2 separate regions of the Homo sapiens genome follow, and region 1 is linked to region 2. The links come from fine-mapping of genetic effects on gene expression. A gene starts in region 2. The other region holds a variant in brackets. All regions are shown on one strand. Distances are from middle to middle.

Region 1 (5,370 bases), 120 kb before region 2:
AGCACAGCCAGTGCCTCAGCCTGGCCACCGGGCGGGAGGAAGTCTCCTCTGAACCCCGTGCCTATGACGTGTTTGCCCCAGATTCTTCCTGGGCCCCCCGACCTACCATTTTCACTGGCTGGGTCATCTTAGGCAAGCCATCGCCTCTGTGTTCCTCAGTTTCCTTGAGAGTGAAACGAAGATGGTGGCCCCTGCCTCACGGGGTGGTTGTGAGGGCTCAAGGAGAGAGCTCTGTCACGGAGCATGCTGTCATACACACTAGCCATCGTTGTTCTCATACTGTTTGTCACTGTTGTTTGTTCTGCTCTCACTCCCTGACACACTTGCCTGCTGCCCGCAGGAGCCCACATGAACGCAGCTGTGACCTTTGCTAACTGTGCGCTGGGCCGCGTGCCCTGGAGGAAGTTTCCGGTCTATGTGCTGGGGCAGTTCCTGGGCTCCTTCCTGGCGGCTGCCACCATCTACAGTCTCTTCTACAGTGAGTATCCTGCCCGGGTGTCCGCCTCTGGCCTCAGCCGCCTCCTATGAAATATGGGCAGATTGGACCTCAGTGTCCTGATTTGTAAAAAATAGCTGGGAGAAAAAAGCCTTGGAGATCCCCCACCCTCTAACCTATAACCTCATTTCTGGGACCCCGGTGGGGCTTAGTTGGGAGCAGGTTCGCATGACAGTCTGTGTCTCCGCAGCGGCCATTCTCCACTTTTCGGGTGGACAGCTGATGGTGACCGGTCCCGTCGCTACAGCTGGCATTTTTGCCACCTACCTTCCTGATCACATGACATTGTGGCGGGGCTTCCTGAATGAGGTCAGTGGTCGAGGATGAGTATCCCTCCCCCTGCCCTCCACCCCTCAGGACGGAGCCAGCAGGGAGTCCCTCCGGATAGACAGGACAAGAACTCTGGATGGAGACTGTACCGAGACGTGTCTCTGCTGGTGGGCTTGGGTCTGGGGCACTGCCGAGGTCCTGTGGCTTGGGGAGGGGCCCAGGTGAGCTGCCACAGCATCTGCTCCTCAGGCGTGGCTGACCGGGATGCTCCAGCTGTGTCTCTTCGCCATCACGGACCAGGAGAACAACCCAGCACTGCCAGGAACAGAGGCGCTGGTGATAGGCATCCTCGTGGTCATCATCGGGGTGTCCCTTGGCATGAACACAGGATATGCCATCAACCCGTCCCGGGACCTGCCCCCCCGCATCTTCACCTTCATTGCTGGTTGGGGCAAACAGGTCTTCAGGTACTGCCCCTGCCCAGGCCCATTCCTTTGAGTTTTTCTGTGGGTCCCCTGTGTGTTGAGGGGTGGGGGGTGATGTGAGGGGCAGCACAGGAGGGTCCTGCTGAGCCCCCAGGTAGCCTGGGGAGCAGGAGTGAGTCCCAACATTTCCCCAGGCCAGTACAGATACAGATCCTGCACCTGCACTGAGTGTCAACGCTGTCCCTGAATTGGGCTGAGGCTGACCAGGGCCCTGGGTTGGGGGTGTTTCCTGGGGTAGCCTGGGGATGACTCCTCTGCTCAACCTGTCTTGGCCCGAGGTGGATGAGGGTGCTGTCCTGGGCATCAGCCCCCTCAGCAGGCCTCTGCCTCTTGCCTGCAGCAATGGGGAGAACTGGTGGTGGGTGCCAGTGGTGGCACCACTTCTGGGTGCCTATCTAGGTGGCATCATCTACCTGGTCTTCATTGGCTCCACCATCCCACGGGAGCCCCTGAAATTGGAGGATTCTGTGGCGTATGAAGACCACGGGATAACCGTATTGCCCAAGATGGGATCTCATGAACCCACGATCTCTCCCCTCACCCCCGTCTCTGTGAGCCCTGCCAACAGATCTTCAGTCCACCCTGCCCCACCCTTACATGAATCCATGGCCCTAGAGCACTTCTAAGCAGAGATTATTTGTGATCCCATCCATTCCCCAATAAAGCAAGGCTTGTCCGACAGCAGTACCCCCACTTCCTGGGGGCCTCCTGTGGTTGGGCTTCCCTCCTGGGTTCTTACAGGAGCTCCAGGGCTATGTCTTAGCCCAAGGTGTAGAGGTGAGGCACCTCAAGTCTTTCATGCCCTGGGAACTGGGGTGCCCCAGGGGGAGAATGGGGAAGAGATGACCTGCGCCCTCAGTAGGAACAGGGTGAGATGAAAGAACGACAGAATGAGGGATTTTCAGGCACGGGGGAAGGAAGGGTGGTTTTGGGGAACAGACCGTAGCTGACTGGTTGGGGGCCGGCTTTGGAAATACTTTGAGGGGATCCTGAGATTGGACTCTAGACTCTCCCCTGGTTCTTCCCTTCCCTGAGTTCTGGCCGGTTCTTGGACCAGACAAGGCAAGGCCCAAGAATGTAGATCAGAATTTTTTAGCCTTTTTTTCATTAGTTCCTTCCCTAGTATTCTTCTAGATTTTTTTTTTCTTAATCACATGAAATTTTAATACC[A/G]CAGATGTACTATATATCTGTTTATGTTCTGTATATGTTCTGTGCTTTATACATAAAAAAGAGTAAGATTTTTTTTTCACCTCCCCTTTTAAGAATCAGTTTTAATTCCCTTGAGAATGCTTGTTATAGATTGAAGGCTGTTAAGGGGTTGGGCTCCTCTTTCTTCTTCCTGGTGCCAGAGTGCTCCCACATGAAGGAATAGGAAAGGAAGATGCAAAGAGGGAAATCCTTCGACCACATGAAGACACAGGAAGAGGCCTCATAGGGCTCCAAGGGCTCCAGGGAAGCAGGTGCAGAGGTTGGGTGGGGTGAGGGGCCAGGATCCACTGACCCTGGGGCCAGGCAGGAATCACTCTGTTGCCTGGGGCTCAGAAGGCAGCATCACCCATGGTTCCTGTCCTTGCTCATGCATTTTGCCTTTCAATAATTATTGTGCATCTACTGTGTGCAGGCCCTGCCTGGACACTGGGGATGCGCAGTGGATGCGCTGGGCTCTGCCTTTGAGGGTTGCAGTTTAATGGGGGACAGGTAATTATATGGAAGAAGGTGAGTGCAGAGTGGGAGGCTTGGAGGCTGTGGGGCTCGGGGTAGGGGAGCTCACATCCAGCCTCTGGGCCAAGGCCAGGAGGCTTCCCAGAGGAGGAGACAGAGCAGGGTATGGTGGTGGGGGGTGTCCTTTTTGGGGGTGGGAGCTGCACTTTACAGTTTGAGGGGATGGGCAGAGGAGGCTGGGCTTCGTTCTGGAGGTGGGGACACGGTGAGGTGAGGTTTAGAAAGCACACCTGAGCCGCAGTGTGTAGGATGCTGGAAATGGTGGAGATGGGCCTGCGAAAGTGATGACCCAGGAGCAGCAGCCGGGCACCTAACAATGGGTCAGCACCGTGGGCGTGGAGACGAGAGCGGGGATTGATCAATACCGGAGAAGTACAATGTACAGGACTTGGGTTCCATTTGGATGGAGTGGGTGAGGGAGAGGGAGGAGTCAGAAATGGCTTCCGGTTTCCAGCTTGGGCCTGGGGATTGGAGATGTCCCCACTGAGAGTAGGGCACAAGTGAGGAAATGGTTTGGAGAGGAAGATAAGTTACATCATGGACATGCTGAGTCTGAGTTGCCTATGGGACTTGGAATGGGGGGTGGCAAAATGTGTGTGATCTTGAGCAAGATATTCAACCCTTCTGGGCCTTGGTCTTCTTATTTGTAAAATGGCGATAAGAATATTACTTCCCATTTGTGTTGCTGTGAATATTAAATGCGCTACCACATGTAAAATGTTGAGAATCATTTCTGGCTCAGAGTAAGTGCTCAATAAACACAGTTATGCCTTTTATATGGTCTGGAGCTCAGAAGCGGAAGACAGGGTTTCGTGAAGTCATGGCTTTGTGGATGTAGCTAGATTGTGGAGTAATGACAGGAGGGTTGGGGGCATGGCACAAGGTAGGTGGTCAAGAGACACTGGACACAACCCAAATGTCCATCCACAGGGGAACAGATACATACACTGCTGCGCAATTGCACATAATAGAACCCTCTACAATAGCAAAAATTAAGGCACAACAGACACCTGCAACAACACAGAAAAATTCTGGAGGCATAAAAGGTAATACAGTAGCCGGGCGTGGTGGTTCACGCCTGTAATCCCAGCACTTTGGGAGGCCAAGGCGGGTGGATCACGAGGTCAAGAGATCGAGACCATCCTGGCCAACATGGTGAAACCCTGTCTCTACTAAAAATACAAAAATTATCTGGGTGTTGTGGCACACACCTGTAGTCCCAGCTACTCGGGAGGTTGAGGCGGGAGAACTGCTTGAACCTGGGAGGCGGAGGTTGCAGTGAGCCAAGATTGCATCACTGCATTCCAGCCTGGCGACAGAGCTAGACTCGGTCTCAAAAAAAAAAAAAAAAAAAGAGCCTGGTGTAGTTGGGCACCTGTAATCCCAGCTACTCAAAAGGCTGAGGCAGGAGAGAATCCCTTGAACACGGGAGGCGGAGGTTGCAGTGAATGGAGATTGTGCCACCGCACTCCAGCTTGGGTGACAGAGTGAGACTGTGCCTCAAAAAAAACAACAACAAAGTAATACAGTAGACTATATACAGTGTGACACCAGTCTTGTAGCTGAAAAATAAGCAAAAATACATTCTTTGCTATATATATGTATGTAAGAAAACTATTTTAGAAAAAGAAATAATTCCTACAGGCAGATGGAGAGGAACACAGGAGTAGTACAAACTATTAATAATTTTCTAGTTTTGGGTTTGGACATTTGCGGGTTTATTACATGATCGTGCTTGATAACATATAAATGTGATACATATTGTTTGTATGAGATATATATATTATATATATATATATATATATATATATTTTTTTTTTTTATGGAGTCTCTCTCCCGTCATGCAGGCTGGAGTGCCAGTGGTGTGATCTCGGCTCACTGAAACCTCTGCCTCCTGGGTTCAAGCAATTCTCCTTCCTCAGCCTTTCAAGTAGCTGGGATTACAGGCATGCGCCACCACGCCTGGCTAATTTTTGTATTTTTAGTAGAGACCAGGTTTCGCCATGTTGGCCAGGCTGGTCTCAAACTCTTGACCTCAGGTGATCCACCCGCTTCCGCCTCCTAAATTGTTAGGATTACAGGCGTGAGCTCCACCGCCTGGCCAGTATGTAGGTATATCTAAAAACACAAAGAAGGAATAGCTGTAGTGTGAGGACGGCGGAGTTGGGGGGCGGAGTGGGGGGCGCCAGGGGGAGGGGAGGGGTAACAGGTGGGAGCCTGGTGAGATCACAGGGAATCCAGGGAGGATGACTGTATCTGACGTCCCACGGTGGGAGGAGCCGAGCCAGGGGAACCAGGGCTGGGAGTGACCAGGGAAGGGCCCACAGCTGGAAGTCCCCAGCTGTACAGTAGCCTTCCTCGGTAACCTTCTACAAGCCCCTTCCCCCCTCTCACGCT
Region 2 (5,301 bases):
CCAATCTCTCACCTCTCTAGGTTGAAAACCTTTTTATCAACCTTATCTTTCCTCTTTCTGTTGTTTCTTCATGCACAGTCATCCTGTTAGCTGATTTCAGAACTCACTTTCAAACTGATTCTTTGGTTTCCTACCACCATGGTTTGGGCTTTCATTGTCTCAAATCTAAATGGGCTTTCCTACCTCTGGTTGCTCTTCATTCCACACCATCCACTAAGATGGCTGGGAAAAGCCTTCCTTTTCTATAGAATTCTGTAGATCATTTTATTTGTCTTCTCCAGTGAGGAAGGAAAAACAGGTATTATTACTTCACAGATGATCATAACTCATATTTACTGAGTACTACTTTATCCTAGACATAGTGGTACACAGGTCACATCAATTACCTCATTTAATCCTCATACTGTAAGGTGGGTATTATCTCTGTTTTACAGATGGGGAAAGAGAGGTTCAGTGATACCCAGGCTCACATGGTTAATAAGTTATGGATCTGGAAAAAACAAGGTAGTTCTATATCCACAGTCCATGTGCTTAAACACAGTATTTTATGTTTCTACCTAACAGGAGTGGAAAATAAGTGACTTTATCAAGGTCACAACTAGAAGGCAGTGACAGTGTATTAGAACACTGGTCCCAGATGCCTAGTTCAGTTTTTCCCAGCAGGCCACTCCTTAAGCAGTCTAATATACCAACCTAACCTGACCAGCTTAGCAAGTCATTGATCTTGAGCACAGCCTAGTCTTCCTCTCCAGATTACCACCTTCTCAGTATAATATGCTAATTCTCATGTACATGCTTTTAGACGTGTGACCAGCATCTCTTTCCACCAGATCAATCCCCAGCCTCCCTTCCATATTTGATTGCAAACTCTCCTCCCTAAAGGATACACCCTCACATGTTTTCTCCTTACCAGACTGTAAGCATCTCTTCTGTAGGGATGCTCACAGCCCCTGCACTAGGTCCTATTTCACTTATTTTTTGAGACGGAGTCTCACACTGTCACTTGGGCTAGAGTGCTATGGTGTGGTCTCTGCTCACTGCAACCTCCGCCTCCCAGGTTCAAGCGATTCTCCTGCCTCAGCCTCCTGAGTAGCTGGGATTACAGGCGCCTGCCACCATGCCCAGCTAAGTTTTTGTATTTTCAGTAGAGACAGGGTTTCGCTATGTTGGCCAGGCTAGTCTCAAATGCCTGACCTCGTGATCCACCCGCCTCAGCCTCCCAAAGTGCTGGGATTACATGCATGAGCCACTGCGCCCAGCCGAACTAGGCCCTATTTCTATAGGTGCTAAAACTAGGCTCTGCCAGCACCTTGTGCAGCAGTTGCTGCCCACCTTACCTTTGCAGGACCCTCTCTCATCTTCTTGATCTGATCCTTATACTTCACTAGCTCAGCATCCAATCGAGAAATCTTCTTGTCAATGGATTCTGCTCTACTGTCCACCTTAGGGGAAAATATCAAATGCACTGGTAGTTACTGCAATACACTTATTCCAGAAGGGGCAGGTAGAGAGGAAGGAATACAGAGGAAGAAAAGAGGAGCTTAAGGGGAAGGGTGAAAAACAGTGGTTCACAAAGAAGGGTATTCCCAACCAGAAACCCTGGGCTTTATAAATTATTCTCTTACCCCCCGCCACACTGCCCCGATTCTGATATACCAGGTAGCCTTCAAGTGGGTTGGGGCAGAAAATAATTTGAGAATCACTGAGTTGAGTTGGAATTTCCCTAGAATCAGAGACTAGCCAGGCTGAGAGTTCCTCCAAGAGGCACATGAAATGGGCCAGTGCCAAGTGAAACCAGCTGATTGTAGATCTAATGCCATTCCCTAAATCGGGGATGGTGGCTTAATCTGAGGGGCTAGGGTTCTGAGTTTTGTGTTACTGAGATCCAGGACGAAGGCACAGATATGTTGACCTAGGATATCAAGCTGAGTCCTGATGTGGACTGGGGATGACAGATGGAAGAAGGGTAAGGGATCAGGCAGGATGAGGTGGGAAGGGTGTATGGGCCTAGGGCTGGGTGAGGTGAGAGGATCAAGGCGAGAGCGAGTGGACGGGCAATGGGCATCAAAACGGGTTGGGTGCTGGCAGGGCAAGGCAGTGATGGGGTTAGGGGTTCCCTGGTTTGTGGCGTTAGGAATGACTTGGGTAACAGGGATGAAGGGGAGAAGGTGAGATAGAGAGGGACGACGTGTAAGGGGCCCAGGACCCGAAATGAAGTGGAAGAATATGGGCCCGGGGCTGGGGGTGGGCGGGGTCGGGTGTGTCAGAGGTCCTGAGCCTACTTATGCATGATCAAATGCCCACCGTGCCAATGCAGTCAGTCAGGCTGGGCGGCGGAGCCTTGGGTTTCGCTTTCCCGAAGAGTCGGTTCATCTTGAGCAGCCGCGAAGAAACCCAAACACTAGAGCAAAACCAGAAACGGAAGCAGAGTCACTCCCGCCTCGACTTCCGGCCCCTCCGTGCGCAAGCGCAATATGCCTCCTGGCGTTTCCCGATTCTTTTTCCGGATTTTCAGCCGGGTCTTCCGGGGATGGAGAGCAAAAGGACTTGGTGCTCTCGGAGAGAGCCTGCAGGGGGCGGGGTGTTGGTAGAAGGAGTGGGAGGGGTTTTACTGTAGCAAGGCGGGGCCTCAGTTGAGTGGGTGGGGCCTGGAGGCAACTAACGCGGCATAGGGCGAGGGCGGGGCCGGCAGGCCGGGGCGGGGCTGGGAAGTAGTCGGGCGGGGTTGTGAGACGCCGCGCTCAGCTTCCATCGCTGGGCGGTCAACAAGTGCGGGCCTGGCTCAGCGCGGGGGGGCGCGGAGACCGCGAGGCGACCGGGAGCGGCTGGGTTCCCGGCTGCGCGCCCTTCGGCCAGGCCGGGAGCCGCGCCAGTCGGAGCCCCCGGCCCAGCGTGGTCCGCCTCCCTCTGGGCGTCCACCTGCCCGGAGTACTGCCAGCGGGCATGACCGACCCACCAGGGGCGCCGCCGCCGGCGCTCGCAGGCCGCGGATGAAGAAGAAAACCCGGCGCCGCTCGACCCGGAGCGAGGAGTTGACCCGGAGCGAGGAGTTGACCCTGAGTGAGGAAGCGACCTGGAGTGAAGAGGCGACCCAGAGTGAGGAGGCGACCCAGGGCGAAGAGATGAATCGGAGCCAGGAGGTGACCCGGGACGAGGAGTCGACCCGGAGCGAGGAGGTGACCAGGGAGGAAATGGCGGCAGCTGGGCTCACCGTGACTGTCACCCACAGTGAGTGTCGGGCGCCAGGTGGGCTCCATGCAGGTCCCGAAAGCCCGGCGGGGTCTGTGGGTTTAGTCACGTGTCCTCCAGAAGCGTGTGACCTTGCGCTTGTCCTGGCGTCCGGAAGCGTGGGTTATTGGTTGTGTCCGTGGAACTGTCTTTTGTCCCGGGCTTGTGTCTGTACACTTTTCCATGTGGCCGGTGTATTTTGTCTCTGGTCATTTGTGCGATCCTGGGTGTTTGAGCTTCTCCGTGCTTTACGTCGTGGGCCTGGTTGTGTTTGTGTGCCCGCGCAGTTATTGTGCCCTTTGTGTCAGGCATATATTGGGCCATGTGGTCTACGACTGCTCCGTGTGTGATAAGTCAGAACTTCGTGCATGCCGGGGTGCTCCTCGTGTGCTGAGTGCCTTCTCCGTGTGCGCCGCTTGAGTTGGCCGTGGGTCCAAGCGTTGTACTCTGGGCACCCTTTGGGTCTGCCTACTGTTGGAGTTGACACACCACCAAATGAAGTCAGTACACCGGAGAGCTGAGTCCATGAGGTTTCTCTAGAACCAGCTAGGGGAGGCCCAAGGGTCTGGGAATCTGGAGACCTGGATTCTAGATCCTGCGGTTTTGAGTGACCTTGGGATGGACGGCTTCTTCTAAGAATCCGGTTTCTCCTCTGTGAAGTAGATTTGGTAACCCTGGCTCCTGCTGACCTCACGGAGCTGTTGGGGGAACCAAACCTTGGTGTAATGTACTGTACACAGGCTCCCTCCTTGCTGTCCGCATCCCTGGAAAAGAATTGGCGTCTCTTCTTCAGAAAGAAAGGCTCTGCTGTTCGTATGCATTTGTCTGTTTACTTAGCACAAATCATGGATGCACTCAAGTGTGTTCAGTGGGAGAGACTTGGAGGAAAACAGTCACTTGCCCATTACAGCAAGCGAGACGAGACCAATACAATACAGGGTACAGGGCAGTCAAGCCACAGGAAGCAGATGGCTTGTGATGAAAAAGGTGGGCTTGGGAATCAGCTAGATCTGATATCAACTTCTGATTCCAACAGTTGAGTCTCCATAGGCAGTCCTTAACTTGCCTGAAGTCACAGTTTGCTCATCTGTGAAATAAGAAGTAATAGGTAGATCTACTTCGTGGGGTTTATCTGAGGATTAAATTAGATTATGCATGAAATGCTTAAAATGTTAGCAGATATCATTCATATTGTTAGTTATTATAATAGAGGAAACAGAGATACTTGAGGAGGTCACCAGAGGAAAGCTGGGTGGCATGGGGGCAGGCTCTGTGGAGTAGGTGGCATATGAGCTGGGCCTTGAAGGCTGGGTAAATAAATGTGATAAAGTGTCATCCTATATTGGTGTATGTGAAAGAATCATATTCGTCAAATGCTTTTCTTTCTCCCCAGGCAATGAGAAGCACGACCTTCATGTTACCTCCCAGCAGGGCAGCAGTGAACCAGTTGTCCAAGACCTGGCCCAGGTTGTTGAAGAGGTCATAGGGGTTCCACAGTCTTTTCAGAAACTCATATTTAAGGGTAAGCATTTCTTTTTCTTTCTTTCTTTTTCTTTTTTTTTTTTTGAGACGAAGTTTCACTCTTGTCGCCCAGGCTGGAGTGCAATGGCACGATCTAGGCTCACTGCAACCTCCGCCTCCCGGATTCAAGTGATTCTCCTGCCTCAGCCTCTCAAGTAGCTGGGATTACAGGTGCATACCACCATGCCCGGCTAATTTTTGTATTTTTAGTAGAGACAGGGTTTCACCATGTTGGCCAGGCTGGTCTCGAACTCCTGATCTCAGGTGATCCACCCGCCTCGGCCTCCCAAAGTGCTGGGATTACAGGTGTGAGCCACTGCACCTGGCCAAGGGTAAGCATTTCTTTTCCGGCTTTTCCTTATGGCCAAAGGACAGTTTTAAAACTGCTGAACTTTTCCTAATAGTCACTCTGTTTTCAAACTGGGACAATTTTTATTTATTTGTTTATTCATTCAGTTCTTCAACAGATATTTATTGAGGACCTGCTAGGTATTGGACACTCTCAAACACCTGGACAGGTGTCAGATTTGAAGTCTTATGATGATGGCAGAA

Alleles and levels. Alleles are on the strand shown, and positions count from the first base shown. SD is a standard deviation of normalised expression in the study named.
For the expression in B cells of the gene that starts at base 2,744 in region 2, allele A in region 1 goes with a lower level than allele G (large effect, 1.0 SD a copy in Fairfax 2012).

Evidence for each region. PIP is the estimated chance that this variant, and not a neighbour inherited with it, causes the effect.
Region 1: its variant is the best candidate, but not a certain one, in a credible set for the expression of BAG1 in B cells (Fairfax 2012, PIP 0.57).

Annotation. Positions count from the first base shown.
Region 1 is chr9:33,381,512-33,386,881 of GRCh38, reverse strand. AQP7 (aquaporin 7) reads left to right here. Exons shown (of 8, transcript NM_001170.3): 5 at 341-478; 6 at 687-805; 7 at 1,016-1,233; 8 at 1,592-3,691. The coding sequence ends at 1,877. It overlaps LOC124902142 (a long non-coding RNA gene), which reads right to left. Exons shown (of 2, transcript XR_007061462.1): 2 at 4,668-5,091. Among named protein-coding and RNA genes, the nearest start is that of AQP7, 18 kb to the left of the region's middle. RefSeq lists enhancers at 1-1,017, 2,509-3,009, 3,010-3,510, 5,079-5,370. The variant A/G (reference allele first, on the strand shown) is at 2,422.
Region 2 is chr9:33,262,151-33,267,451 of GRCh38, reverse strand. It overlaps BAG1 (BAG cochaperone 1), which reads left to right and starts at 2,744. Exons shown (of 7, transcript NM_004323.6): 1 at 2,744-3,228; 2 at 4,622-4,750. The coding sequence starts at 2,778. It overlaps CHMP5 (charged multivesicular body protein 5), which reads right to left and starts at 2,403. Exons shown (of 8, transcript NM_016410.6): 1 at 2,305-2,403; 2 at 1,338-1,442. The coding sequence starts at 2,373. RefSeq lists enhancers at 2,196-2,435, 2,966-3,555, 3,686-3,735 and a silencer at 2,616-2,935.